4 linked regions of the Homo sapiens genome follow. The protein of the gene in region 2 interacts with the protein of the main gene of each other region in a pairwise test. Each region holds a gene or a part of one and is shown on either strand. Other genes may lie near its edges. The genes, in order: ACKR2, MS4A1, THAP4 and RNF19B.

Evidence for each region.
Region 1: the proteins of MS4A1 (region 2) and ACKR2 interact in binary tests that used the Homo sapiens proteins (3 or more experiments, as listed by UniProt).
Region 3: the proteins of MS4A1 (region 2) and THAP4 interact in binary tests that used the Homo sapiens proteins (3 or more experiments, as listed by UniProt).
Region 4: the proteins of MS4A1 (region 2) and RNF19B interact in binary tests that used the Homo sapiens proteins (3 or more experiments, as listed by UniProt).

What each region holds. Positions count from the first base shown.
Region 1 is NC_000003.12:42,861,428-42,867,799, forward strand, and holds the end of ACKR2 (atypical chemokine receptor 2), read left to right. Parts: intron 1-3,038; 5' UTR 3,039-3,075; coding exon 3,076-4,230; 3' UTR 4,231-5,859; downstream 5,860-6,372.
Region 2 is NC_000011.10:60,458,836-60,465,865, forward strand, and holds part of MS4A1 (B-lymphocyte antigen CD20), read left to right. Parts: intron 1-2,236; 5' UTR 2,237-2,325; intron 2,326-3,349; 5' UTR 3,350-3,539; coding exon 3,540-3,698; intron 3,699-4,166; coding exon 4,167-4,286; intron 4,287-5,452; coding exon 5,453-5,509; intron 5,510-7,030. UniProt on the Homo sapiens protein: B-lymphocyte-specific membrane protein that plays a role in the regulation of cellular calcium influx necessary for the development, differentiation, and activation of B-lymphocytes.
Region 3 is NC_000002.12:241,585,129-241,592,158, forward strand, and holds part of THAP4 (peroxynitrite isomerase THAP4), read right to left. Parts: intron 1-7,030. UniProt on the Homo sapiens protein: Heme-binding protein able to scavenge peroxynitrite and to protect free L-tyrosine against peroxynitrite-mediated nitration, by acting as a peroxynitrite isomerase that converts peroxynitrite to nitrate.
Region 4 is NC_000001.11:32,954,791-32,961,820, forward strand, and holds part of RNF19B (E3 ubiquitin-protein ligase RNF19B), read right to left. Parts: intron 1-7,030.

The sequences.
Region 1 (6,372 bases), on a different chromosome or scaffold from region 2:
ACAGGTACAAAGAGGAGCTGGTACCATTCCTTGTGAAACTATTCTAAACAATAGAAAAAAGAGGGAATCCTCTTTAACTCATTTTATGAGGCCAGCATCATCCTGATACCAAAACCTGGCAAAGACACAACAAAAAAAGAAAATTTCAGGCCAATATCCCTGATGAACATCGATGCAAAAATCCTCAATAAAATGCTGGCAAACCAAATCAAGCAGCACATCAAAAAGCTTATCTACCACCATCAAGTCGGCCTCATCCCTGGGATGCAAGGTTGGTTCAACATACACAAATCAATAAATGTAATCCAGCACATAAACAGAACCAATGACAAAAACCACATTATTTTCTCAATAGATGCAGAAAAGGCCTTCGATAAAATTCAACACCCCTTCATGCTAAAAACTCAATAAACTAGGTACTGATGGAACATATCTCAAAATAATAAGAGCTATTGGTGACAAACCCACAGCCAATATCATACTGAATGGGCAGAATCTGGAAGCATTCCCTTTGAAAACCGGCACAAGACAAGGATGCCCTCTCTCACCACTCCTGTTCAACATAGTATTGGAAGTTCTGGCCAGGGCAATCAGGCAAAGAGAAAGAAATAAAGCGTATTCGAATAGGAAGAGAGGAAGTCAAATTGTCTCTGTTTGCAGATGACATGATTGTATATTTAGAAAACCCCATCGCCTCAGCCCAAAATCTCCTTAAGCTGATAAGCAACTTCAGCAAAGTCTCAGAATACAAAATCAATGTGCAAAAATCAAAAGCATTCCTATACAACAGTAACAGACAGAGAGCTAAATAATGAGTGAACTCCCATTCACAAATGCTACAAAGAGAATAAAATACCTAAGAATACAACTTACAAGGGATGTGAAGAACCTCTTCAAGGAGAACTACAAACCACTGCTCAAGGAAATAAGAGAAGACACAAACAAATAGAAAAACATTCCACGCTCATGGATAGGAAAAATGAATATCGTGAAAATGGCCATACTGCCCAAAGTGATTTATAGATTCAATGCTATCCCCATCAAGCTACCACTGACTTTATTCACAGACTTAGAAAAAACTACTTTAAATTTTATATGGAACCAAAAAGAGCCCATATAGCCAAGACAATCCTAAGCAAAAAGAAAAAAGCTGGAGGCATCACGCTACCTGACTTCAAACTATACTACAAGTCTACAGTAACGAAAACAGCATGGTACTGCTACCAAAACAGATATATAAACAAATGGAACAGAACAGAGGCCTCAGAAATAACATCACAGGTCTACAACCATCTGATCTTTGACAAACCTGACAAAAACAAGCAATGGGGAAAGGATTCTCTATCTAATAAATGGTGTTGGGAAAACTGGCTAGCCATATGCAAAGAACTGAAACTGGACCCATTCCTTACACCTTATACAAAAATAAACTCAAGGTGGATTAAAGACCTAAACATAAGACCTAAAATCGTAAAACCCTAGAAGAAAGCTAGGCAATACCATTCAGGACATAGGCATTGGCAAAGACTTCATGACTAAAACACCAAAAGCAATGGCAACAAAAGCCAAAATTGACAAATGGGATCTAATTAAACTAAAGAGCTTCTGCACAGCAAAATAAACTATCATCAGAGTGAACAGACAACCTATAGAATGGGAGAAATTTTTGCAATCTATCCATCTGACAAAGGGCTAATATCCAGAATCTACAAAGAACTTAAACAAATTTACAAGAAGAAAACAACCCCATCAAAAAGTGGGTGAAGGATATGAACAGATACTTCTCAAAAGAAGACATTTATGCAGTCAACAAACATATGAAAAAAAAGCTCATCATCACTGGGCATTAGAGAAATGCAAATAAAAACCACAATGAGATGAGATACCATCTAACCCCAGTTAGAATGATGATCATTAAAAAGTCAGGATAAAACAGATGCTTGAGAGGATGTGGAGAAATAGGAATGCTTTTACACTGTTGGTGGGAGTGTAAATTAGTTCAACCATTGTGGAAGACAGTGTGGTGATTCCTCAAGGATCTAGAACCAGAAATACCATTTGACCCAGAAATCCCATTACTGGGTATATACCCAAAGGATTATTAATCATTCTACTATAAAGACACATGCACACATATGCTTATTGCAGCACTGTTCACAATAGCAAAGACTTGGAGCCAACCCAAATGCCCATCAATGATAGACTGGATAAAGAAAATGTAGCACATACACAGCATGGAATACTATGCAGCCATAAAATGGATGAGTTCATGTCCTTTGCAGGGACATGGATGAAGCTGGAAGCCATCATTCTCAGCAAACTAACATAAGAACAGAAAACAAAACACTGCATGTTCTCACTCATAAGTGGGAGTTGAACAATGATAACACATGGACACAGGGAGGGGAACATCACACATCTGGGCCTGTTGGGGGATTGGGGGCTAGGGGAGGGATAACATTAGAAGAAATACCTAATGTAAATGACAGATTGATGGGTGCAGCAAACCACCATGGTATGTATATACCTATGTAACAAACCTGCACGTTTTGTACATGTATCCCAGAACTTAAAGTATAATAAACAAAATTTTTTAAAAAAGCCCCACTGAAGCTAAGCTGTCATTAAAGAAATTATAAACCATACATGAGGAAGGGTCAGGAGACACATTAAATAGATGAATTGATATCCCTAAAGAATAAAGAAGAATTTGAAAGACACTATAGGTCTTTTTAAATGAAGAAACAAAACCATAATGAAATAATTAAATACTCTGAGAACACCTGAAGGTTAGTCACTTATCCAAGAGTAAGTGTCCCAGAGTAAGTGGGATTCAGTTATAAGACAAAGGTGAGGGGATATCTTGGTGACATAACTATTAAGTGGTGCAGATGGCTCCCTAAGCTTTTGCTCTTACTTGCTGGACTGCAGGTACTGATGTAGATTTGAAGAGTCTATTGGACATCCCAGGGCAGCAGCAAAAGTGGGTTTAGAGAAAGGTAGAGAATGCTAGGTCTCACCATATTTTCCCCCCGCAGCACTACAGGACGTCGGGACTGGGCATTTCCTTCCAACATGGCCGCCACTGCCTCTCCGCAGCCACTCGCCACTGAGGATGCCGATTCTGAGAATAGCAGCTTCTATTACTATGACTACCTGGATGAAGTGGCCTTCATGCTCTGCAGGAAGGATGCAGTGGTGTCCTTTGGCAAAGTCTTCCTCCCAGTCTTCTATAGCCTGATTTTTGTGTTGGGCCTCAGCGGGAACCTCCTTCTTCTCATGGTCTTGCTCCGTTACGTGCCTCGCAGGCGGATGGTTGAGATCTATCTGCTGAATCTGGCCATCTCCAACCTTCTGTTTCTGGTGACACTGCCCTTCTGGGGCATCTCCGTGGCCTGGCATTGGGTCTTCGGGAGTTTCTTGTGCAAGATGGTGAGCACTCTTTATACTATTAACTTTTACAGTGGCATCTTTTTCATTAGCTGCATGAGCCTGGACAAGTACCTGGAGATCGTTCATGCTCAGCCCTACCACAGGCTGAGGACCCGGGCCAAGAGCCTGCTCCTTGCTACCATAGTATGGGCTGTGTCCCTGGCCGTCTCCATCCCTGATATGGTCTTTGTACAGACACATGAAAATCCCAAGGGTGTGTGGAACTGCCACGCAGATTTCGGCGGGCATGGGACCATTTGGAAGCTCTTCCTCCGCTTCCAGCAGAACCTCCTAGGGTTTCTCCTTCCACTCCTTGCCATGATCTTCTTCTACTCCCGTATTGGTTGTGTCTTGGTGAGGCTGAGGCCCGCAGGCCAGGGCCGGGCTTTAAAAATAGCTGCAGCCTTGGTGGTGGCCTTCTTCGTGCTATGGTTCCCATACAATCTCACCTTGTTTCTGCATACGCTGTTGGACCTGCAAGTATTCGGGAACTGTGAGGTCAGCCAGCATCTAGACTACGCACTCCAGGTAACAGAGAGCATCGCCTTCCTTCACTGCTGCTTTTCCCCCATCCTGTATGCCTTCTCCAGTCACCGCTTCCGCCAGTACCTGAAGGCTTTCCTGGCTGCCGTGCTTGGATGGCACCTGGCACCTGGCACTGCCCAGGCCTCATTATCCAGCTGTTCTGAGAGCAGCATACTTACTGCCCAAGAGGAAATGACTGGCATGAATGACCTTGGAGAGAGGCAGTCTGAGAACTACCCTAACAAGGAGGATGTGGGGAATAAATCAGCCTGAGTGACCAAATTTTGGTCTGGTGGGAACAGATGGGAACCAGCTCAATTGGGTGTCCACTCAAAGTGCTCTCTCCAGGGGCCTCAGTGACTGTGTTGCTAAACCCAGTGGTCAGTTCTCAGTTCTCAGCCATCAGCAGCATTTGCTCGCCCCGCCTTCTTCCTCCACTTTCTTCACTTGCTTCCAGGATACCACGCTTTCTTTTCTGAATTGCTACAATCTTTCTTCCTTCCTTCCTTGCTTCCTTCCTTCCTTCCTTCCCTCTCTCCCTCCCTCCCTCCCTCGCTTCTTCCCTTCCTCCTTTCCTCCCTTCCTACTTTCCTTCCTTCCTTCTGACAGGGTCTTGCTCTATTGCTCTGTCACCCAGGCTGGAATGCAGTGGCGAGATCTCCGCTCACTGTAGCCTCCTCCCCCTGGGTTGAAGCAATTCTCATGCCTCAGCCTCCCAAGTAGCCAGGACTATAGGCACCTGCCACCATGCCTGGCTAATTTTTGTATTTTTTTTCTTTCTTTCTTTCTTTTCTTTTTTTTTTTTTTTTGAGACGGAGTCTCACTCTTGTTGCCCAGGCTGGACAACAATGGCGCGATCTCGGCTCACTGCAACCTCCACCTCCCGGATTCAAGCGATTCTCCTGCCTCAGCCTCCTGAGTAGCTGGAACTACATGCGCGTGCCACCACGCACAGCTAATTTTTATAATTTTAGTAGAGATGGGGTTTCACTGCGTTGGCCAGGATGATCTCGATCTCTTGACCTTGGGATCCACCCGCCTTGGCCTCCCAAAGTGCTGGGATTACAGGTGTGAGCCACCATGCCTGGCCCTAATTTTTGTGTTTTTATTAGAAACAGAGTTTCACCATGTTGGCCAGGCTGGAGAATTGCTGTAATAGTTTTCCAACTGGCCCCTGTCCTTCCTCTCTCTTGCTCTCCTCCCATCTCATCTGCACCTAGCAGCCAGAGTGATCCTGATACTCTCGGCCTTTACTTCCGCCTCCCTCAGAGCAGCAGCCTGTCAAAACACCAGATTACAACAAATTTAGTTTAAAGGTCTCAATTAGCGTTATTGGCAATTCTAGAATCAGGCAACAGACTCATTGAATCAGGAACAGATTCACTCCATAAAATACAGAGAGTGCTGCAATGAGCTGGGTAGAAGAGGTTAGTTTTATAGACAGGAAGGGGCTGTCAAAGGCAGAAAGAAATGAAGAACAAAAAAAAAGATTGATTTTTTTTTTTTTGAGACAGGATCTCACTCTGTCATCCAGGCTGAAGTCCAATCCCACAATCATGGCTCACTGCAGCCACCACCTCCTGAGCTCAAGTGATCCTCCCATCTAAGCCCCCAAGTAGCTAGGACTACAGGAGCACACCACCACACCTGGCTAATTTTTGTATTTTTTGTGGAGACAGGGTCTCAGTATGTTACCCAGGTTGGACTGGAAACCCTTGGCTCAAGCAATTTGCCTGCCTCAGCCTCCCAAAGTGCTGGGATTACAGGCGTGAGCCACTGCACAGGGCCAGATTCATCATTTCAAAGTTACTTTCTATATGCGGCCGGAACAGGGTGGTTGACATCAGTTTTCTTCAGGTTACTTTTTAATAATGATTAAAACGGGGAACTTCATTATCATGAGCATGGTTACTGTCTGCATTATTACGCCAACTGAAACTGTCATGTTTGGGAATTTGGCTGTTAACTCTGTCTCCAGGAGTCTCAAAGGTCAGATAACAACTTAGTTTTGGTTTGAGGACATGGAACTTTAATACGACAGATTCCATTTTGGTTTGGTCTGGTCAGCTGGGACCTAGTGCAGGAGGTTAGTCCAAAACAATGGCCTTCCATAGTTTTTACTTAACAAGCCCAACTCCTTACGGTAATCCTTTAAGGCCTATGTGATCTGCCCTCACCCTGGCTACACTCTTTGCCCTTATGTCCACCAGCCTCCAGTGCTCCAGACACAACTGATCTCAAATACTCCTGACACATCCCCCTGGGGATTCCTCTTCCTGGATTGCTCTCCTCTCAGCTGTCTGCTTGGCTCACTCTCTCACCTTCTGAGGTCTTAGCTCAGATACCACCTTTCACTCACCTGTCCAACCTATTTAACACAAACTGGCCCATCTCTGACGCTCCTGATCTTCCTGA
Region 2 (7,030 bases):
AAAGATAGTTTCCATAAGAAATAAAAAAACAGAGAAAGCACTCATGTGTTTCTTTATAAACTACTATTTTATACAAATATTTGTTTAAGGTTTGTAGAAGTATAGTTGCCACCATGAGATACCATTTTAACAGAGAAATATCACACACACACACACACAGCCCTCATGGTCATTATTGCCATTAGTTACAACAGGCATAGCCCAAGTAGAATTGGCTTACAAAAAAGTTTATCTCGCCAATAATACAGACACAGCTTTAATCAAGCAGTTGATGAATAAAATGAAATTAAAACAATGGCAGTCCAATCATCTCCTTCAGTTCAAACAATTGATGACCTTTGCATTTTAAGTTATCTTCACTAAAGTTACCCCTCTGGGGCGGAGTGTAGTGACTCCCAGCTCATTCCATACTTGCCATAGGACCTTGGGAAAAATAACCTCTCTCAACCTCCATTTCTTCATCTGCAGAAAGTAGTCAAAATGCCTACTTACGAAGGTGTTGAGTGAGTTGGCAATACCATATACAATATCTCTAGTATATAGTAGGTGCTCAGTAAACAACTATAATTATCTGGACTCACCTATGGTACAGCAGAAAAAGCATCAACATCAGAGCCATGGTGAGTGCCTTCTAGCTTGGCTCTGTTGCTAACTGTGAGGTCTTTACTAAGGCAAATTCTATACCCAGACTGCAGCTTCCTCATTTGTGAAATGAACAGAATGGTTTCTGAGGTTTGGACTAGCTCTAGAAATCCTACCTAGTGACCAGAATCAGTCCGCAAACTCTTTAGTGGGCTATATTAAAATATCTGTTTTTGTTAGAGGTCTTGTAGAGTGGCTTGTTGTACAAAGCAGATCCCCAGGACCATGTGGCATCTGGCTATCTAGGGCAGGGGCAAAATCAAGTGAGAAACAACCAAAGTTTCTTCTCTCTTTCCTCTAGCCCATGCGCCAGACAGATAATACTTTTCAACTGATTTATAGTCATTCACATAGTGCATATATTGGAAGGAGAAAAGAGGGGTCATAAGGGAAAGGCTGAATTCCTATTTCTCACAGGAGACAAAGCAGCCTGGTACCCTGGATGCCTAATTTGAGAGATCCAAGTCTTCATTTTAAATCTTTACAGGCTGGGCATGGTGGCTCACAGCTGTTATCCTAGCACTTTGGGAGGTGGAGGGGGGCAGATTGCTTGAGTCCAGGAGTTCAAGACCAGCCTGGGCAACATGGCAAGACCCCATCTCTAAAAAAAATATAAAAATTAGCTGAGTATGGTGGTGGTTGCCCGTGGTCCCAGCTACTCCAGTGGCTGAGGCAGAAGGATCACCTGAGCCCAGGAGGTAGAGGCTGCAGTGAGCTGTGATCATGACACTGCACTGCAGCCTGGGCGACAGAGCGAGGCCCTGTCATGAAAACAAACAAACAAACAAAAAATATTTACTAATTATGTAACTTGGCACAAGTAACCTAGCTTCTCCGTGCCCTTGTTTCCTCTTCTATAAAACACAGGTGATGATTCACCCCTTGCCTGTTCTATAAGGCTCAGATGAGATGCCATGTGTCAAATTTACTTCCAGCCCTAAAGTAGGTATAAATGTGACAGTAGTCAGCTGCCTGTTTTACAGCACACCTGCAGCTACTCAGCTCTGATTGACTTCAGTAAGATATACTTCAGGCTGTGGTCTAATGGCTGGGATGTGGCACCGGCTTCAGTAAGATATGTGACCTGGATAGACAGTCTTGATTTCCAAGACATCTTACATGACTTACAAGCAATAAAGACAAGAGCAAAGATGTGTCCCCAAAAGAGGGATTTTCAGATTCCAGGAAAGACCCAGTGGAGTCCGCATAAGTGGTTAACATGAACAAGTGAATGCTAAGGAAACCCAAGATGAAGATTGAACAGAATCTTAAAATGTCTGAGCTGGAAAGGGCCGTATTAATTGCCTTCTCACTTCAGAAATGAATAAATCATGAAAACTGATAAATAGCATTTACTACACTCTCCCTTTGTCCTAGGCACAATTACATATGTTAACTTATTTATGTCTTACATCTCAGAGAGGGGTACTGTTCTAACTTTACAGAAGGATAAAATCGAAACTAATGCTCAGCAAAGTACAAAGAACAAGAATAGCAACAAAAATAACTATTTATTCCAACATGGGTTCTTTGCATACATTTATTTCTTCAATAATATTTATTAAGAAGTAACTAAATCCAAAAATTATTTTAGATCCTGAACAAGAGAGAACAAAATCTCTACTTTGATGGAACTTCCATTCTGTGGGGAAGAGACTGACAATAAGCAATTAAATAAATAAGGTAATTTCCTACAGTGATCAATGCCGTAAAGCAATTAAGATAGGATTTTGTAAAAGACAGCAAATAGGAGTACATGTTATAGATTGAGGGTTCAAGGTAGGCTCCTCTAGGAGCTGACATTTGAGCTACACCTGAACAAAAAGACACTAGCCATGCACAGACCATGAGCCCAGTTAAGTGTTATAGCAGCCCACGAGATAAGAATTATTATTATTTCAATTTTACAGTTGAACCTGAGGCCCAGAGAATTTAAAGAACTTGCCCAACATCTCAGAACAAATGGAGGAATCACTATTGAAACCTAGGCAATCTGACTCAGGAGGCCACAGTCTTATATACTGCATTAGAAAGCCTTAGAGAGCCTTTTCTTTTTCTTTGAGACCGAGTCTCACTCTGTTACCCAGGCTGGAATGCAGTGGCATGATCTCAGCTCACTGCAACCTCTGCCTCCTGGGTTCAAGCAATTCTCCTGCCTTAGCCTCCCGAGTAGCTGGGATTACAGGTGCACACCAACATGCCTGGCTAATTTTTGTATTTGTAGTAGAGATGGGGTTTTGCCACGTTAGCCAGCCCGGTCTCAAACTCCTGACCTCAGGTGATCTGCCCATCTTGGCCTCCCAAAGTGCTTGGATTACAGGCATGAGCCACCGTGCCCGACCTAGAGAGCCTTCTTGATGTGACTTGCACAAGGTGGCAGAGTTAGAGACAGAGAGAGGCCTGGAATCGACCCCTCCTGCTTCTACAGATAGTCCTTACCATACTCTGCAATGTTGCCTCTGGCCCATCATAATGCACAAAGGCAGATAAGCAAAAGGACAAGGACAAGTCCATTGAAAATACATTTTTCAATATTAAAGCAAAAGAAAAGCATCCAGGAATAAGAAACAAAGAGGACATGCAGTCATATATGCAAGGTGTCCTCTACAAAGATAAAGAATGCCCCAAACCCAGTTGTCAAGATCACTGGCAGGGACTCCTGGGCCCACATGCTCTTCCTAAACAACCCCTCCATCTCCTTTCTCAGAACTCAGCAGTAGGCCTTGCCTCAGATCCAAGGTCACTCGGAAGAGGCCATGTCTACCCTCAATGACACTCATGGAGGAAATGCTGAGAGAAGCATTCAGATGCATGACACAAGGTAAGACTGCCAAAAATCTTGTTCTTGCTCTCCTCATTTTGTTATTTGTTTTATTTTTAGGAGTTTTGAGAGCAAAATGACAACACCCAGAAATTCAGTAAATGGGACTTTCCCGGCAGAGCCAATGAAAGGCCCTATTGCTATGCAATCTGGTCCAAAACCACTCTTCAGGAGGATGTCTTCACTGGTGGGCCCCACGCAAAGCTTCTTCATGAGGGAATCTAAGACTTTGGGGGTAAGTCAGTTGCCTTCCATCCCATGTCGTAGGGATTCTCTGGCTGACAGAAGCTGATGCGGTATAGGCCACATACAGAATTCAATCCAATTTGAAGAATTGGGATCCAACCTGATGTCTTCTTTATGTCTAACACAGTGGGCCAAATCAGGGGTGCATCAGAGAAGTTATCACTTAGATCACCTCTGGGTGATCTTATGTCACCTTTTGGTTTTGGGGCTTGTATATGCAGGGGTCCCCCATCCCAGTCCATTGCCAGAATCCCAGGCATACCTGCTCCCTGGAAATGCCCCATGTGGTTGAGGAAACAGATTCGAACAAGAAAAAGACAAAATTCTTGGCACCTCCACTGCTTCCTTTAGGCATTCCTCACAGCTCCAAGTCAGGAGCCAGAGCTTCCAACCTTGTCTTTGCCTGCTAGCAGTGATGATTTCAGCTCATCCACTGCTGCCTCTGTTCTCTCCCCAGGCTGTCCAGATTATGAATGGGCTCTTCCACATTGCCCTGGGGGGTCTTCTGATGATCCCAGCAGGGATCTATGCACCCATCTGTGTGACTGTGTGGTACCCTCTCTGGGGAGGCATTATGGTGAGTAAAAGAATAGCAGCCATTTGGGAAATGGTGCAGACAAAAATGTTAAAAGGCTCCACAGGGATATGCCAGATTATTTCTGTGTTGAGGGAAATATATGAGTAGGAAATATTATTGGGTTAAAGTAATTAAGAAGACAGGTTGACCAAATTGAGTATAAATCCCATGGTTGAGAGTCAGTGGTCCTGTTTCATGTGAATTCAGAGAAAGGGGCCCTGCATGGATCTCACAGGGACTGTCCAAAGCAAGAACTCTCCAAAGTCAGTTCTGGTGGGGAGGGTGGCCCTAGACATTTAGACTAGATAGCAAGATGTTTTGGAAAGCAAGAGGCAGCAGGAACATCCACTTCCATCTACCCCTTCTTGCTTACAATTCTGTTTGGTTACTATGGTACCTGGTGAAACCTGTCCCATCACAAGTCAGTCTCATTTTGCTTATCGACAGAGCAGCACTCTTTTGGCTGTTTTACGTACATGTTTTCCAAATCTGTAACCCTGTCTGGGTGTGGCACATAGGACAGTGATGTTTATTTCCCCGTGATACTTTTCATAGTTGCCACTATAAAAGATAAGTCCAGGATTAAAATTTTCCAAACAAGTAGAGATGGGTTAGAACAAGAGTTTCCTCCATTCTACAGCCTGAATGTGAGAAAAGGAAGATGAGCAATAGTCATCATCACTTCCTGTAACAGCCAATGTTTTCATGGAGTGCCTGTGCCATTCAGGTCAAGTATTTCCTTCTGCATCAGTTCACTCTTCAGAGGGCATCAGAGTCATTTATGTCACTGTGAACCCCAAAGGGCAGTTCCACAAGTTAAAAACAAAGAAAAACTAGAAATAAAACTTTTAAATTTATGGTATGAGTATTAATTGATGAGGAAATTTGAGTTCTGTCTCTTTGGTCTTACTATATTCCTAGTCACAGATCCCCAGATGATTGAGTAAAAGGCATGAATTTAGTGTCACTGAGCCTGAATAAAGGAGGAATATGACAGCTGAAAAATGAATACAACTGATAAAAATGGGTGGATGGTTGTGTGAAAGTTGCTGAAAGTGTAGGCTTCTTTCTGACCAGTTATCAATGTTAAAAAGTGATCTCCCTCTCTCCTCTATCTCCTGTCTTGCCCACCCCCTCTCCATCTCCCCCACCTCTCTTTTTTACAGTATATTATTTCCGGATCACTCCTGGCAGCAACGGAGAAAAACTCCAGGAAGTGTTTGGCAAGTAACCATATGTCCTTCTTTCCCACATGTCAGAGAAGTACCTATTTTTTTCGGTTAAAAACTGAGACCCTTAAAAAGCCAAGGTATCACAGCCTCTCAGCCCTAAAAAGCAAAGACCCTCCACAATGTTATTGTGATTTTATTTATGAAAAACTTAGAAGCGAGGTCTATCTGAAGTATGTTCATGGGAACAGAACTAAAAGCAGATCCATGAAAACCATACCTACAGTCTTAAGAACGTTAAATGCTGTGTGAAAATAATAGACCTTTCTGAAAGCCCTATCATTTCTCCCAGATCACCATTTAGGAAAATTATCTGATCAATGTCATGATTGATTCAAATTCTAGCTAAGCCATTTTTTGGCCGTAACATTGAACAAGTCAGTTTACCTCTATGTTCCTGAGTTTTCACCTAGAAAGGAAGGGTAACAGTCCTTGCTACCATGTGACGTCCAATGGAGATGAAAGGCAGTAGAGTGTGTGATGGTGCTTCACAGGCTATAAAGTACTACACTGTGGTCTTGCCCATAAAACCCCTAGGGACTCATCTAGATCCAGAGGAAACTGGCCTGCAGAGCTGCTGATGCTGTATGGATGAAAAGAGTTTAGCAGCAAGTTCGCTCCCAAAAAATTCCTCCCCCAACACTGTTACTAAACTGTGTCACTTTCATAATCAATGAGGGAATGGGTGGATTGAGATGGTTCCTGTCTTAAAGTGGCCTGACACACTCAGTTTGGGGGGAAAACTTTTTATGAACATCAAATTATTCTCTAGATACAGCCAGATTTACTGACTTGCCATGTGTAGGTCATAGAGCCAGGAATGAAATATGCGCAGCATAAAATAATAATCAATAATCCCATATCATTATGGTACTTGTTATTTATATTTTCCTGTTTCAACCTTTTATCATCCCTGCAAGGTAGAACATTCACACTGATATTTTCTTACCTATGCTACCCAAAGACATCAGCCCTAATTGTATTTTGGAAGATAGCTGACTGGGGCTGATTGCAACCTATGTCAGCAGGAATAGATGTTGTTACTGTTGTTGCTTCTGCTTTTTTTATTTCCATTTATTTGATAGTACAGATCTAGAGGGTTCTATCTGAACCTTCCCAACCTATACTTCATAATACCATCCCACTAAAGTGTGATACAAGAAACTTCTTCACTCTCTTCCCTCTACCTATTTATGAAGGCAGATAATAAACTGGATAATATTTATCTTCACTTATTCAACAAACATTTATTGAGTGCCTACTAGGATGGTGGCAGTGGCAGTGAAGGAAATGCAAGGATACAAGATATAGAATCAAGGGTTACTCTTAGAATTTTTGCTTTATAAAACAGATGGATGGTGAATGAGATAGGGAAGACTGAGAAAAGAACAGGATAGAGACATGATTTTATTTTATAGTGACAAAGAGGCTAAAAACAACTGAGAGAACTTCAGTATATTTAGTTGTAGTTGCTTTGTGAGTCAGGGCAGTTGCATTTGGAATTCCCTCCCAGAT
Region 3 (7,030 bases), on a different chromosome or scaffold from region 2:
CTCCACTGCCTCCCACTTTCACTGTAACTAGAACTGATGTCCAGTGTGTTCTTGGAAAGCTCAGAAATACCATCTTTGGAACAGTAATTCATCAGAATAAATTATAGCAGCTGTTTCCAACAAGAATCCAAGCCTATGGCAGCTAAGTCCCGAATGAGTCAGCCCTATATGCCCAGAATGTTTGCCGGCAAATTGTGAGAGTGACCACTGTCAAAAGACAATTCTCTGATGGGCACTATCTCTCTAGTGCCCCAGATGTGTGGGGGGTCATGTGGGGTGGGGGGCACCAGAAGTGGATGAAACGGAGTTCTGCTTATGGCCATGGCTGACTACTCTGTAACTGACCAACCCTCCTGCAGATAACAACCCAGGTTTTAAGAAGTTTCTTTAAAGGTGTCAGAGAACCACCAAGTCAGCGAGGACCAGCACCCCAAAGAGAAGGAAGTGTGGAGGTGAGACCCAATTTGGAGCAACTGGCCCCGATGCTTTTGCTGCCCGGAAGTCAAGGGGTTCAAGGGGTGGAGGCTGAGAGGGATGTGGTAGCTAAGAGGCTGAGAAGCTAAGTGGGGCCTTCTCAGACTCATGGAGCTGGAGGGACAAACACTGGAATTCAGTGTCCATCTAGGAGGAGAGGCGCAGCCGGGCATGGTGGTATGCACATGTAGTCCCAGCTACTCGGGAAGTTGAGGCAGCAGAATTGCTTGAACCCAAGAGGTGGAGGTTGCAGTGAGCCGAGATCATGCCACTGCACTTCAGCCTGGGTGACAGAGCAAGACTCCTTCTCAAAAAAAAAAAAAAAAAGAAAAAAAAAAGAAAAAGAAAAAGAAAGAAAAAAAGCACCCTGAGGTTGGGCACGGTGGTTCACGCCTGTAATCCCAGCACTTTGGGAGGCCGAGGCGGGCGGATCACGAGGTAAGGAGATCGAGACCATCCTGGCTAACAGGGTGAAACCCCGTCTCTACTAAAAATACAAAAAAAATTAGCCGGGTGTGGTGGCGGGTGCCTGTAGTCCCAGCTACTCAGGAGGCTGAGGCAGGAGAATGGCGTGAACCCAGGAGGCGGAGCTTGCAGTGAGCCAAGATCGCGCCACTGCACTCCAGCCTGAGCAACAGAGCGAGACTCCATCTGAAGAGGAAAAAAAAAAAAAAAAAAAAAAGCACCCCAGCTTTGGGTGGGGTCCCTGAAGGGTCCCATCCCAGGAGTAAGAGTTAACCAGAAACAGGCTGGGAAGTCCGGTTTCAAACCAGCTCAGCCTCTACTGAACACGAGCTGTCCATCCTTGACCAACAGGCAGAAGCACAGAACTGCTCTTTGGTGAGGATAACATCAAAGGAAGCCTCAAGTCATCTCTACAATTTTTCACACATATTGTCTAGAATCCAAGAAAAAAAGAAAAACTCCTTAGGTTACTAGGAGATAAGATCAAAAGAAAAAACAGGAAATAGACACCTCCCCCACCCTCACCCAGGGGATACCAATACTGGAGTTATTAGAAGACAATATGGAGAATTTCTGCAGGTAATCAGAATTTATCAAAAAGATTAAAATATAAATTCTACAACTGAAAAACATAATAACTCAAATTAAGGCCCCAATAATGAAATAGACAAATTAGACACAGATGAAGAAAGGATTAGTAAAATGGAAAATGATCAGTAGGAAATATCCACATTGAAGCTTAGAGAATAATGGAAAATATGGATGAAAGCATAAGGGACACATTGAAAATTGCAAAAGACTGAACACATGTGTAACCAGAGACCCAGAAGAAGATAGGAAAGACAACAGAACACAAGCAATATTTGAAAAGATCATGGCCAATTTTCTGAGCCTAACAAAATATATCAAGCCACAAATTCTAATTATATCACAGCAAAACTTTGGCTGATAATCAAAGGCAAGAAAATAGAAACTTGAAAGCAGCCAGAGGTGGGTGTGGGTGTCATGGTTAATTTTAGGTGTCAAAGGTCAAAGGTGACCGATTAAGGAACACCTAGAAACCCGGTAAAGGATTATTTTGAGTATGTCTGAGAAGATGTTTCCAGAGGTGACTGACCAGGTGAGGAAGATCTACCCTCCATGAGGGTGGGCACCATCTAATAGGCTGGGGGCCCAGATAAAATAAAAACAAAGATAAGGCGAATATGTCCATCTGTTTGCTGGAGCTGGGATACACTCTTCCTCCCCCGTCCTTGGACACCTCCAGGCCCCCCGACCTTTGGACTCCCAGATGTCACCAGCACCTCCTCTCTCCTCAGGGCTCTGAGACCTTTGGCCCAGGACCAAGAGTGACACCACTGACTTCCCTGGTTCTGAAGCCTTTGGACTTGGACTGAGCCATGACACTGGCATCCCAGGGTTTCCAGCTTGTGGAGGGGACTTTTATAACTATTGAATGCTACATTCGTTAAGTGTACATGAAATATTCATGAAGTTAGGCCATATACTGGGGCGTAAAATAAGTCTCCAACATTTTTTAACAGACTAAAATATTAGAGGGTATGTTGTCTGGGCCTTATAGAATTGAATGAAAAATCCTGAGCAATAGAATCTATTTAAAAAATTCTCAATTATTTGGAAAATAAGTAACATATCTCTAAATAACCCTGTTCAAAGAAAAAAAAAATCACTACAAAATTAGCCGGGTGTGGTGGCACATGCCTTTAATCCCAGCTACTCGGGAGGCTGAGACAGGAGAATCACTTGAACTGGCGAGGTGGGGGTTGCAGTGAGCCAAGATTGCGCCACTGCACTCCAGCCTGGGCAACAAGAGAGAAACTCCATCTCAAAAAAAAAGAAAAAAATCACTAGAGAATAGCCACTCTACTCCAGCCTGGGCAACACAGAATACCTTGTTTTTATTGAAAGAAAAAAGTAAAAAGGAGAGAAAAGAAGGAAGGAAGGAAGGGAGGGAGGGAGGGAGGGAAGGAAAAGAAGAAAAATAAAGAAACAAACTACAGAAATGAATGAATTTAACAAAGTCACATGATACGAGATCAATATACAACAGCTAATTGTACTTCTATATACTTGCAACAAATAAGTGGAAAATTAAAAAATCATTTATAATAGCATCCCAAACCACAAAATATGTAGGAATAAATTTAACAAAATGTGTGCAAAACCAATACGTTGAAAACTACAAGAAAATATAGGATGAGACTGATCTAAATAAATGGAGCACCTTACCATGGCACTGGATTGGAGGACTCAGTTTGCCTAAGATGGCACTTCTTCCCAAATTAATTTAGAAATTCAAGTAGTTCCAATGAAAATGTTTCTAGAAACTGACAAGCTGATTCTGAAATTCATAAGGAAATGCAAAGGGTCCTAGGATAGCCAAAACAATTTTGGAAAAAAGAAAAAGAAGAAAAGTTGGGTAACTTCTATCACCTGATTCAATATAAAGCTACAATGATCAAGACAGCATGGTAACAGTATAAAGACCGAAACAGAGAAGAGTGGGACAGAAGAGAGAGTCCTGGGGAAGAACCACACACACAAAGTGAGTTGATTTTCGACAAAAGCACTGCATACTTTAATAAATTAAGGGTTCTCTTTTCAACAAATGGTGCTGGAAACGAGGTATCTGTATGAGGAAAAATGGAAAAAACGTGACTACTACCTCATACCATCTAGAAATAGCAATTCCAAATAGCATATATCTTAAAACTATAAAACTTCTTGAAGAAAATGCAGGTGAAAATCTTTGCTGCCTGGGCTAGGTGAAAAATTTTAAGACAGGACACAAAAAGCACTGACTAGAGAAAAAAAATGGTAACAGAATTAAAACATTTGGTTCTAGACTGCGCATGGTGGCTCACGCCTGTCATCTCAGCGCTTTGGGAGACCAACGAGGGTGGATCACCTGACGTCAGGTCGAGACCGGCCTGGCCAACATGGTGAAACCCCGTCTTTACTAAAAATACAAAAAATTAGCCGGCCATGGTGGTGGGAGCCTGTAATCCGAGCTACTTGGGAGGCTGAGAGAGGATAATCGCTTGAATCTGGGAGGTAGAGGTTGCAGTGAGCTGAGATCAGGCCATTGCATTCCAGCCTGGGCAACGAGAGCAAACAATGTCTCAAAAAAAAAAAAGAAAAAGAAAAGAAACCCCCCACCCCCACCAAAAAAAACAACATTTGGTTCTTCAAATGGTACTGTCTAGGAAACAGAAAGGCAAGGCACAGGATAGGAATATCGTGTTGGCAAGTACACCTGATAAAGGACTTATACCCAGAACAAACAACAGGCTCTTACAACTCAGGAATAACACAAACACTTAAACAAATGGGCAAAAAATCTGAATGTTCATTTCACAAAACAAGAAATACAAGTGGCAAATAAGTACAACAAAAAGATGAGCAGCATCGTTACTCAGCAGGGAAGTGCAAATTAACATCACAATAAAATACCACCCTGTAGTGGCCAGGATAAAACTCAAAGGCCAACCCTTGGCGAGGCTGTGGGACAACCTTGCTGGGGTGTCAAGGGGGACAGCCACTCTGGAAGAGATTGGTGCTTACCACAGAACCCAGCAGTTCCAATCCCAGGTATGCACCCAAGAGGAAAAAAAACATGTGTCCACACAAAGTTAGGTCTACACATGCTTACAGCTTTATTCCTAATAGCCCGGAACTGGAAACAAATAAAATAAACATCCATCAACAGAAAGGATAAACAAAACTGACAAGCTCACTGGTGGACCACCACACAGCAACAAGCAGACGTGGCACATGCAGCAGAACTGCTGAATCTTGAGAGCGTTTCAGTGAGGAAAGGAGACCGGAAACAAATGAGTTGTGTGCTGTGACTCCACTGATGATAATGATGGGCACTAGGACACTCAGAGCTGCTCGGCTGACGATGATGGGCACTAGGACACTCAGAGCTGCTCGGCTGACGATGACGGGCACTAGGACACGCAGAGCTGCTCGGCTGACGATGATGGGCACTAGGACACGCAGAGCTGCTCGGCTGACGATGATGGGCACTAGGACACTCAGAGCTGCTCGGCTGATGATAATGGGCACTAGGACACTCAGCTGCCCGGCTGATGATAATGGGCACTAGGACACACAGAGCTGCTCGGCTGATGATAATGGGCACTAGGACACTCAGAGCTGCTCGGCTGATGATAATGGGCACTAGGACACTCAGAGCTGCCCGGCTGATGATGAGGGGCACTAGGACACTCAGAGCTGCCCGGCTGATGATGATGGGCACTAGGACACTCAGAACTGCCCGGCTGATGATGAGGGGCACTAGGACACTCAGAGCTGCTCGGCTGATGATAATGGGCACTAGGACACGCAGAGCTGCTCGGCTGATGATAATGGGCACTAGGACACTCAGAGCTGCTCGGCTGATGATAATGGGCACTAGGACACACAGAGCTGCTCGGCTGATGATGGGCACTAGGACACTCAGAACTGCCCGGCTGATGATGAGGGGCACTAGGACACTCAGAGCTGCTCGGCTGATGATGATGGGCACTAGGACACGCAGAGCTGCCCGGCTGACGATGATGGGCACTAGGACACTCAGAGCTGCTCGGCTGATGATGATGGGCACTAGGACACACAGAACTGCTTGGCTGATGATCATGGGCACTAGGACACTCAGAACTGCCCGGCTGATGATGAGGGGCACTAGGACACTCAGAGCTGCTCGGCTGATGATAATGGGCACTAGGACACGCAGAGCTGCCCGGCTGACGATAATGGGCACTAGGACACACAGAACTGCCCGGCTGACGATGATGGGCACTAGGACACACAGAACTGCCCGGCTGACGATGATGGGCACTAGGACACACAGAGCTGCTCGGCTGACGATGATGGGCACTAGGACACTCAGAGCTGCTCGGCTGACAATAATGGGCACTAGGACACACAGAACTGCCCGGCTGACGATGATGGGCACTAGGACACTCAGAGCTGCTCGGCTGATGATGATGGGCACTAGGACAGACAGAACTGCCAGGCTGACGATGATGGGCACTAGGACACTCAGAACTGCCCGGCTGACGATGATGGGCACTAGGACACTCAGAGCTGCTCGGCTGATGATGATGGGCACTAGGACACTCAGAACTGCTCGGCTGATGATCATGGGCACTAGGACACTCAGAGCTGCTCGGTCTACAGTGGCAGAAACCAGGCCGGGGGCTTGAGAGGGCAGCGGGGGTTGCCTGTGGAGCACGGGGACTTTCTAGGGTGCTGGGACTGTTCTCAGTCTTGACTGGCGCAGCGTTACAAGATTATATATGCTTGTCCAAATGTATCAAACTGCACACTTGAAGTGTATGCATTTATTCCATATAAAGTATACCTCAATAGAGGTGATTTTTAAAAAGTAGAAGCCATGATAATGAAGACAGTGTGGTATTGGCACAGGGACTGACAAACAGACCACCTGGAACCAGAGAGAGGGTGAGAAGCAGACCCCTGATGAAGGATACTGAGGGGCTCAGGGGGCAGTTGCATGGGTGAACAGGGGGGCCGGGCTCTTCATGCAGGGTGCAGGGTAGCTGGCCCTCATCTGAGAACAAGGAGAGGGGACAGCACTTCACACTATACACACAACTCAGCCCCAGGTGGATTAATGACCTAAAGGAAAGATTTTAGGTTGAACTGTGAAGCTTCCAGAAAAATTCAGAATACATATTTTGACCTGTTAGTGAGGAAAGACTGCTTAACTAAGACATTAAAAACAGAATCCATAAAGGAAGAGATTGGCAAACTGAACCACATAAAATCCAGAACCTCTGTTCTTCAAAAACAATTTGTAAAACTCAAAAGATAATCACAGACCGAAAAAGCTATTTGCAACACATTTAGCTAACAGAGCTTTATTCAAATCATATAAAGAACTCTGACATGTCAGCCAGAAAAGGCACAGTGGAAATGGTCACCAGACCTGAACAGGCACCTCGCTGGAGGATGACCCAGCAACGACGTGAAAAGATGCTCAAGCTCGCAGGTCACCGGTGGCAGCCCAGGCTGCAAAGCTAGGTCCAGAGCCACCCAC
Region 4 (7,030 bases), on a different chromosome or scaffold from region 2:
GGTATAGGTACTTGTCACATTCAAACGTAGCTAAACACGTTCTAAAACTGCATGTGAGACCTTGTCCTCAAAGATATATGGCGTAAAAACATCGTACACTCTGTCCTACTTTCTGGCTTTTACATACTCTATTCCTTCTACCTAGAAATGTCTTGTCCTTACTTCTTGCCCTGACAAGTACCCATTTAAGAACCAACTCAGGTGTCATTTTCTCTGTAAAATATACTTAACCTCTCTAGGCAGCTCGTTGCCTACTTCGTGGGTGTGCACAATTATTTTATAACACTTACATTATAATGTAACTAACTGTTTATATGCTTGCCTTCCAAACCACACTGGACTTAAGGAGACATATCATCCACTTTTTAATCTCAGTCTAGTATACTGGTTCATGCTCAAAATACCTGTGTTGCATGAATGACAGAGACCCTCTCTTGTTTTGGTTGTTTGACCTTCCCTAGGACATTCTAGGTCTTCTCCTAGGCCATCACTCTGCTCTAAAGCAATCTTTTCAATGTATCCATGTATCTATTGGCTTATTATATGCCAGGTACTATAACCTAATCCTAAAATTTCATATAAACCCACTTTAGTGGTAAACCCCTAAGTTCTGAATACGGTAATCTTCTTCCCGAATAGTTGGAAAAAAAAAACCTCGCCTGGGCATGGTGGATCACACCTGTAATCCCAGCACTTTGGGAAGCCAAGGTGGGTGGATTGCTTGAGCTCAGGAGTTCGAGACCAGTCTGGGCAACATGGCAAAACCCCATCTCTACAAAAAAAAAAAATACAAAAATTAGCTAGGCGTGGTGGTGCATGCCTGTAGTGCATGCCTGTAGTCCCAGCTACTCAGGAGGCTGAGGTGGGAGGACGGCTACAGCCCGGGAGGTGGAGGCTGCAGTGAGCCAAGATCGTGCCACTGCACTCCAGCCTGGGAGACAGAGCTAAACCCTGTCTCAAAAAAAAAAAAAAAAGAAAAGAAAATACCTCATCCTTGAAACCCAATCTGCCCTGTCCACTTTGTTCCTTCTCTTCCACGTCCCATGCTGGTGCATCTCTCCTACTCTGCTCTTTTAGCTTAACCAATCAGTCAGGCTTGCTAATCAGAAGCTAAAAGAAAGGTGTAGAAAATTACATGCTGTGAAGAATACAGACACAGCTGGGTGCAGTGGCTCATGCCCATAACCCCAGAACTTTGTCAGGCAAAGGCAGGAGGATCACTTGAACCCAAGAGTTCAAGACCAGCCAGGGCAACATGGTGAAATCCCATCTCTACGAAAGACACAAAAATTAGGCCGGGCATGGTGGCTCATGCCTGTAATCCCAGCACTTTGGGAGGCTGAGGTGGGTGGATCACCTGAGGTCAGGAGTTCGAGACCAGCCTGGCCAACCTGACAAAACCCCTCTCTACTAAAAATACAAAAAAATTAGCTGGGCATGGTGGCGTGCACTTGTAGTCCCAGCTACTCCCAGCTACTCGGGAGGCTGAGGCAGGAGAATCACTTGAATCCAGGAGGCAGAGGTTGCTGTGAGCCGAGATTGCACCACTGCACTCCAGCCTGGGTGACAGAGTGAGACTCTCTCTTCAAATAACAACAACAACAAAAATTAGCCGAGTGTGGTGGGGCGCGGTGGCGTGTGGTGGCACATGCCTGCAGTCCCAGCTACTTAGGAGGCTGAGGTGGGAGGATCACCTGAGCCTGGGAGGTTGAGGTTCTAGTGAGCTGAAATTGCACCACTGCACTCCAGCACGGGCAACAGAGTTACAGAGTTAAACCCTATCTCAAAAAAATAAAAAATAATAAAAAAGAAAAAGACTACAGACCGCCCACCCCAGCCCCTGCTGCTTAAGTTCATACAACTTTTACTCATTTTATTAATTTCCTAAATCTTCAGAAACTTCATAAAGTGACAAGCTAGACCACAGCATTACTTAGCTTCAGCCCTGGAAAGAGATTTCCATTAGTATAAATTTGATTATGCTCCAATAGACTTCAGTGGTTAAAGAAATGTGTTCCTATATTATGTCTGTACTTTCCATCCCCAAGTCATGTAACATAACTAGGCTACCCATTTACAAATAGACCCCTAGTAGGCATCAGGGTGGTAGACATGCGCCAACTTGTCACAATGAACTGTACCCTTAACATCTTCATTTTTCCTGCCCTATTTAAGACCCATCTCTAGGCTAGACAACTCCAAGAGCCTCCTTATCTGCTCTCCCTATTCCCCACTCCATCCAAATTCCATTCTGGAAGGTTACTCTTTTGCTTAAAATCCTTCAAAGAAAAAGAAAAAAGAAAAAAAGTGCTTCAACCCAAAACTTATTTCCATGGCTTACACAGGCCTATCAACCTGAATCCAGTCCACGTTTTCAGGTTGATCTCTAGTCATTTCCCAGGTATGGGGTCTTGCTATTACCCAGGCTGGTCTCGAACTCCTGGGCTCAACTAATCCTCCCACCTCAGCCTCCTAAGCAGCTGGGACCACAGGTGCACACCACCATGCCTGCTCCTCTGTGAAGTCTTTCTTGAAACCATCATGCAAATTCTATTGTTCTTTCATCTATCTAAGAGCACCCGTATTTTCTTTAGTATTTATCATATGACATTTGAATAATTTTCTATCTATCTATGTATCAATTATCTGTCTCCTCTACCAGGTGAAACTTCCTATCAAGAAAACCATGTCTAAGTTCTTTTTGAAATACCCAGTACTCACCCAGGGTTCAACAGTGTATCATTCTGAAAGTATCTGTTGAAGCCAGGTGTGGTGGCTCACACCTGTAATCCCAGCACTTTGGGAGGGTGAGGCGGGTGGCTCGCTTGAAGTCAGGAATTCAAGCCCAGCCTGGCCAACATGGTGAAACCCTGTTTCTACTAAAAATACAAACATTAGCTGGACATTGTGGCACATGCCTGTAATCCCAGATACTTGGGAGGCTGAGGCAGAAGAATCGCTTGAACCCGAGAGGCAGAGGTTGCAGTGAGCTGAGATGGCACAACTGCACTCCAGCCTGGGCGACAAAGCGAGACTCCATCTCAAAAAAAAGTTGTCTGTTGAATTGAATGATCACCTGTCTATACTATTCTTGCTTATCTCTTTCATCTCTATTCTTCCTCTGAGAACTATGCTGCTCATATTTCTTATCTTTTTCATCAAAATTCATCTATGTACCACACTCTTCTAGAGCCTAATTGAAAGACTTTGTACACAGAGTTGTAGAAATGGTTGGAATATAGATATCCTAGTCTAGAGACATGAGCTCTCAATCTATTCAGAGCATAAGGTTTATGGTTAAATAAGGACACTAACCAAAGGCAGGCCAGCATGGTAACTATTAAAGGAGTTTAGGGAAAGTTTGAGTTAAGCCTTAAAGATGCTACAGAAAAAACAAAAACCTGTTTCCTGGTGATCTAAATTGGGGAAATTACATTATATTGAAGATTTATACTACATATTAGCATATTAGCATGTTTAAAGATTTAAGAAACTCATAAACTTGTTTTATTTTGTTTAACTCAGTATTTTCCAAGCTTATTTCCTCACAAAACATTTTTCTTTCAAGTAATGCCTATAACATACCTTAGGAAATAGTGATGTGAGTGAAAAATAGAAAATAAAATCAAAAGATGGTTGGAGATGGCCGGGCGTGGTGGCTCACGCCTGTAATCCCAGCACTTTGGGAGGCTGAGATGGGTGGATCACGAGGTCAGGAGATCGAGACCATCCTGGCTAACACGGTAAAACCCCGTCTCTGCTAAAAATACAAAAAATTAGCCAGGCATGGTTGCAGGTGCCTGTAGTCCCAGCTACTCAGGAGGCTGAGGCAGGAGAATAGCATGAACCCGGGAGGTGGAGCTTGCAGTGAGCCGAGATTGCACCACTGCACTCCAGCCTGCCTGGGCAACAGAGCGAGACTCCATCTAAAAAAAAAAAAAAGATGGTTGGAAACTGTAAAGGAGCTTAAATGATAAGGGTAGATCAAATAAGTTCTCAAAGACATAATAAGAACTCATCTTATAGGTTAGGTAGTCAATGAATAGTCTTAGGCAGGGGAGTGATACAGATGTTCTCCTTTAGTACAAGTACTTTGGCAAATCTGAGACAGATGTATTGGGATGGAGGTTGGTGTACGTGCACAAGAGGAGGGGGTGGTGTGGAGTTGGGGAATGCAGGGAAAAGTTGTGGAACAGGAGGTATGGAGCCAAATCAAGAGAAGAGGTTCAGGGAGGCTTCAGAAAGCAAAAATCCTCCTTCACTGACTGAAATTTGTCTTGCTCAAAGAGCTTGCTTGATCTTCCCTCATAAATGTGCTAGGGATGAAAAAAGCTTCCTGTTTATGGGATGGTCCAGTCTAGTTGTCTGGGAAGGCCAATAGCTGATACTGTTTCCTGGGATCAGGTGGGAGGAAGGATTCTGCAGAGGACAGAGGCAGCAATGAAAGGCTGGAGTGGTGGACCTGCACAAAGAATTTAGGTCAAGACAGCCTTATCCCTTCTTATTCATCTGTACAGAAGATCTGCCCCTGTACACCAGGAAATTTTCTGTTGCCTACTTTGCTCACCCGTCAGTCTCCTAGAGATTCTGAAAGGGTTTTAAGATTAGCAACAGGATACTTGAGAGGAAAACATTACAGTTACCTGACTTCGGGGTTTCTGAAAAGACATACTTGGGCAGAGACTCAAAAGCGTAAAAGATCAATTGTACCAATTATTAGCAATGAAACACTAGGCCCCATGTTTAAACTTCTCTGAACTGGTTTCTCCTTTATAAAATGCACGCCAATATCCACCTGGATGAGACTAAAATGAAATTATGTCTGAATGAGATTATAGTCTGAAGACTATAAAGAACTATAAAAAATCAGTTATTTGTATTTTGAACTAATTTTATCTCATTTGACAGCTTGTTTTAAGATTATACTAGGCCATATTGTTCTTAGTATATTAAATAATAATGTGAGGCCGGGCACAGTGGCTCACGCCTGTAATCCCAGCACTTTGGGAGGCCGAGGTGGGCAGATCACGAGGTCAGGAGATCGAGACCATCCTAGCTAACACGGTGAAACCCCGTCTCTACTAAAAATACAAAAAAAAAAAAAAAAAAAATTAACCAGGCGTGGTGGTGGGCGCCTGTGGTCCCAGCTACTCAGGAGGCTGAGGCAGGAGAATGGCGTGAACCCGGCAGGCAGAGCTTGCACTGAGCAGAGATGGTGCCACTGCACTCCAGCCTGGGTGACAGAGCGAGACTCCGTCTCAAAAAAAAAAAAATTATAATGTGAATGTTTTCCCACTGAAATTGGTTCCCTTATTTATGAATAAAATAAAACCATATTTGAGTGTAAGAGAAGAAAAATCCAAAACTCTTTGCTCTATCCTACAAATATTCTGTAAACAAATCATGAATCTCTGAATGTATGGTGTTCTTGTTATTATGAGTAATTATAGTAAAACTAATGATCAGAACCTGTAAGATTGCTCACATGCCCCCCTCACCCTACCAAATGCACATACAAACAAGGCAGAGGGGAGACCTGATCAATTTGGCTGGCAAGAACTTTATCTGTGGGCAGTAAAGATGGTCAGGTATGGGAATAGGAGGTAACTGGGACTTGGACTTCTCTTCTAGTGTTTATCAATGACCTCTACCAGCCCCAGAAGAATAGAACGATTTGTTTAAAAAAATAAAACAAAGGAGCAGTGTGCAGTGGTTCGTGCCTATAATCCCAGTTACTCAGGAGGCTGAGGTGGGAGTACTGCTTTAGTCAAGGAGTTCAAGGTTGTAGTAAGCCATGATCATGCCACTGCACTCCAGCCTGGGCACAGAGTGAGACTCTGTCTCTAAAACAAAACAAAACAACACTGTTCAAAACAAAACAAGGGAACCATGACATCCAGTAAGAACACAGAAGCTATTTTTTTTCCTGGCATTAAAAAGAGGCAGCAATAATCCCAGCACTTTGGGAGGCCAAGGCGGGAAAACAGCTTGAGCCCAGGAGTTCGAGACCAGCCTGGGCAACACAGGGAGACCCTATCTCTACAAATAATAATAATAATATTAATAATAATAATTAGCTGGGCTTGGTGGCATGCACCCGTGTTCCCAGCTACTTGAGATGCTGAGGCAGGAGGATCGCCTGAGCCCAGGAGATTGAGGCTGCAGTGAGCCGTGATTGCACCACTGCTGCACTCCAGCTTGGGTGACAGAGCGAGACGCTGTCTCAAAAAAAAAGAGATGCAAAGCCACTAGGCACATCCCAAGGGAGAACTCAGGCATCTATTTGGCAACTAACAGAATTTTAAAGTTACTCCCTATAACCACTTTCAACTGAAGATCTCAAAACACCGTGTAAACATTAATTAAACCTCTCAAGTCAGGAAAGAATTAGACCTATTTCAGATAAGAAAAATAACGTAGGTAGGAGGCTGTTAACAACAGGAATCAGAAAGGAAACTAGACTCTAGTATCTTTGGCTTTCTCCATGTTGTCCTCAGGCTACACTTAATGAAATGCACCCAAGCAGCAGCATCCTCAATAATGCGGCTATGTTGACAAGCAAATGCTTTTTAAAACAGGGGCTGAATGGAAGGAATATTGGCATTGGTTGGAATTAAGACCCCTGTTCTAAGCCTGGTTCCACCACTTACTAGTTATATGACCCTGAACAAGTCATTCAATTTCCTTAAACTTTAGTTTCCTCATTTATAAAACTATATCAAACCTAAACCTATCTCACAAGGTTGTATCGAATTAAATTATATATACCTGGCACACAGGTATTGAGAGGCCAGCTTTCTTCTTTCCCCAAACTCCACCTTAAGTCCGTAGATGACACATATAAAAAAATACATTGTTTATATATATAACTATATATATGATTATCATTCTTCTAACTAATTAAAAAAATAAAATCTGGAGGATACTAACATAATACTTGGCTAAAATAAGAAATGGCCTAATTTTTTAATAACTTCCAAATAGTTGAGAGTTGTCACCAAGCTTGAAAATTATTTTCTGTGCATTTTTA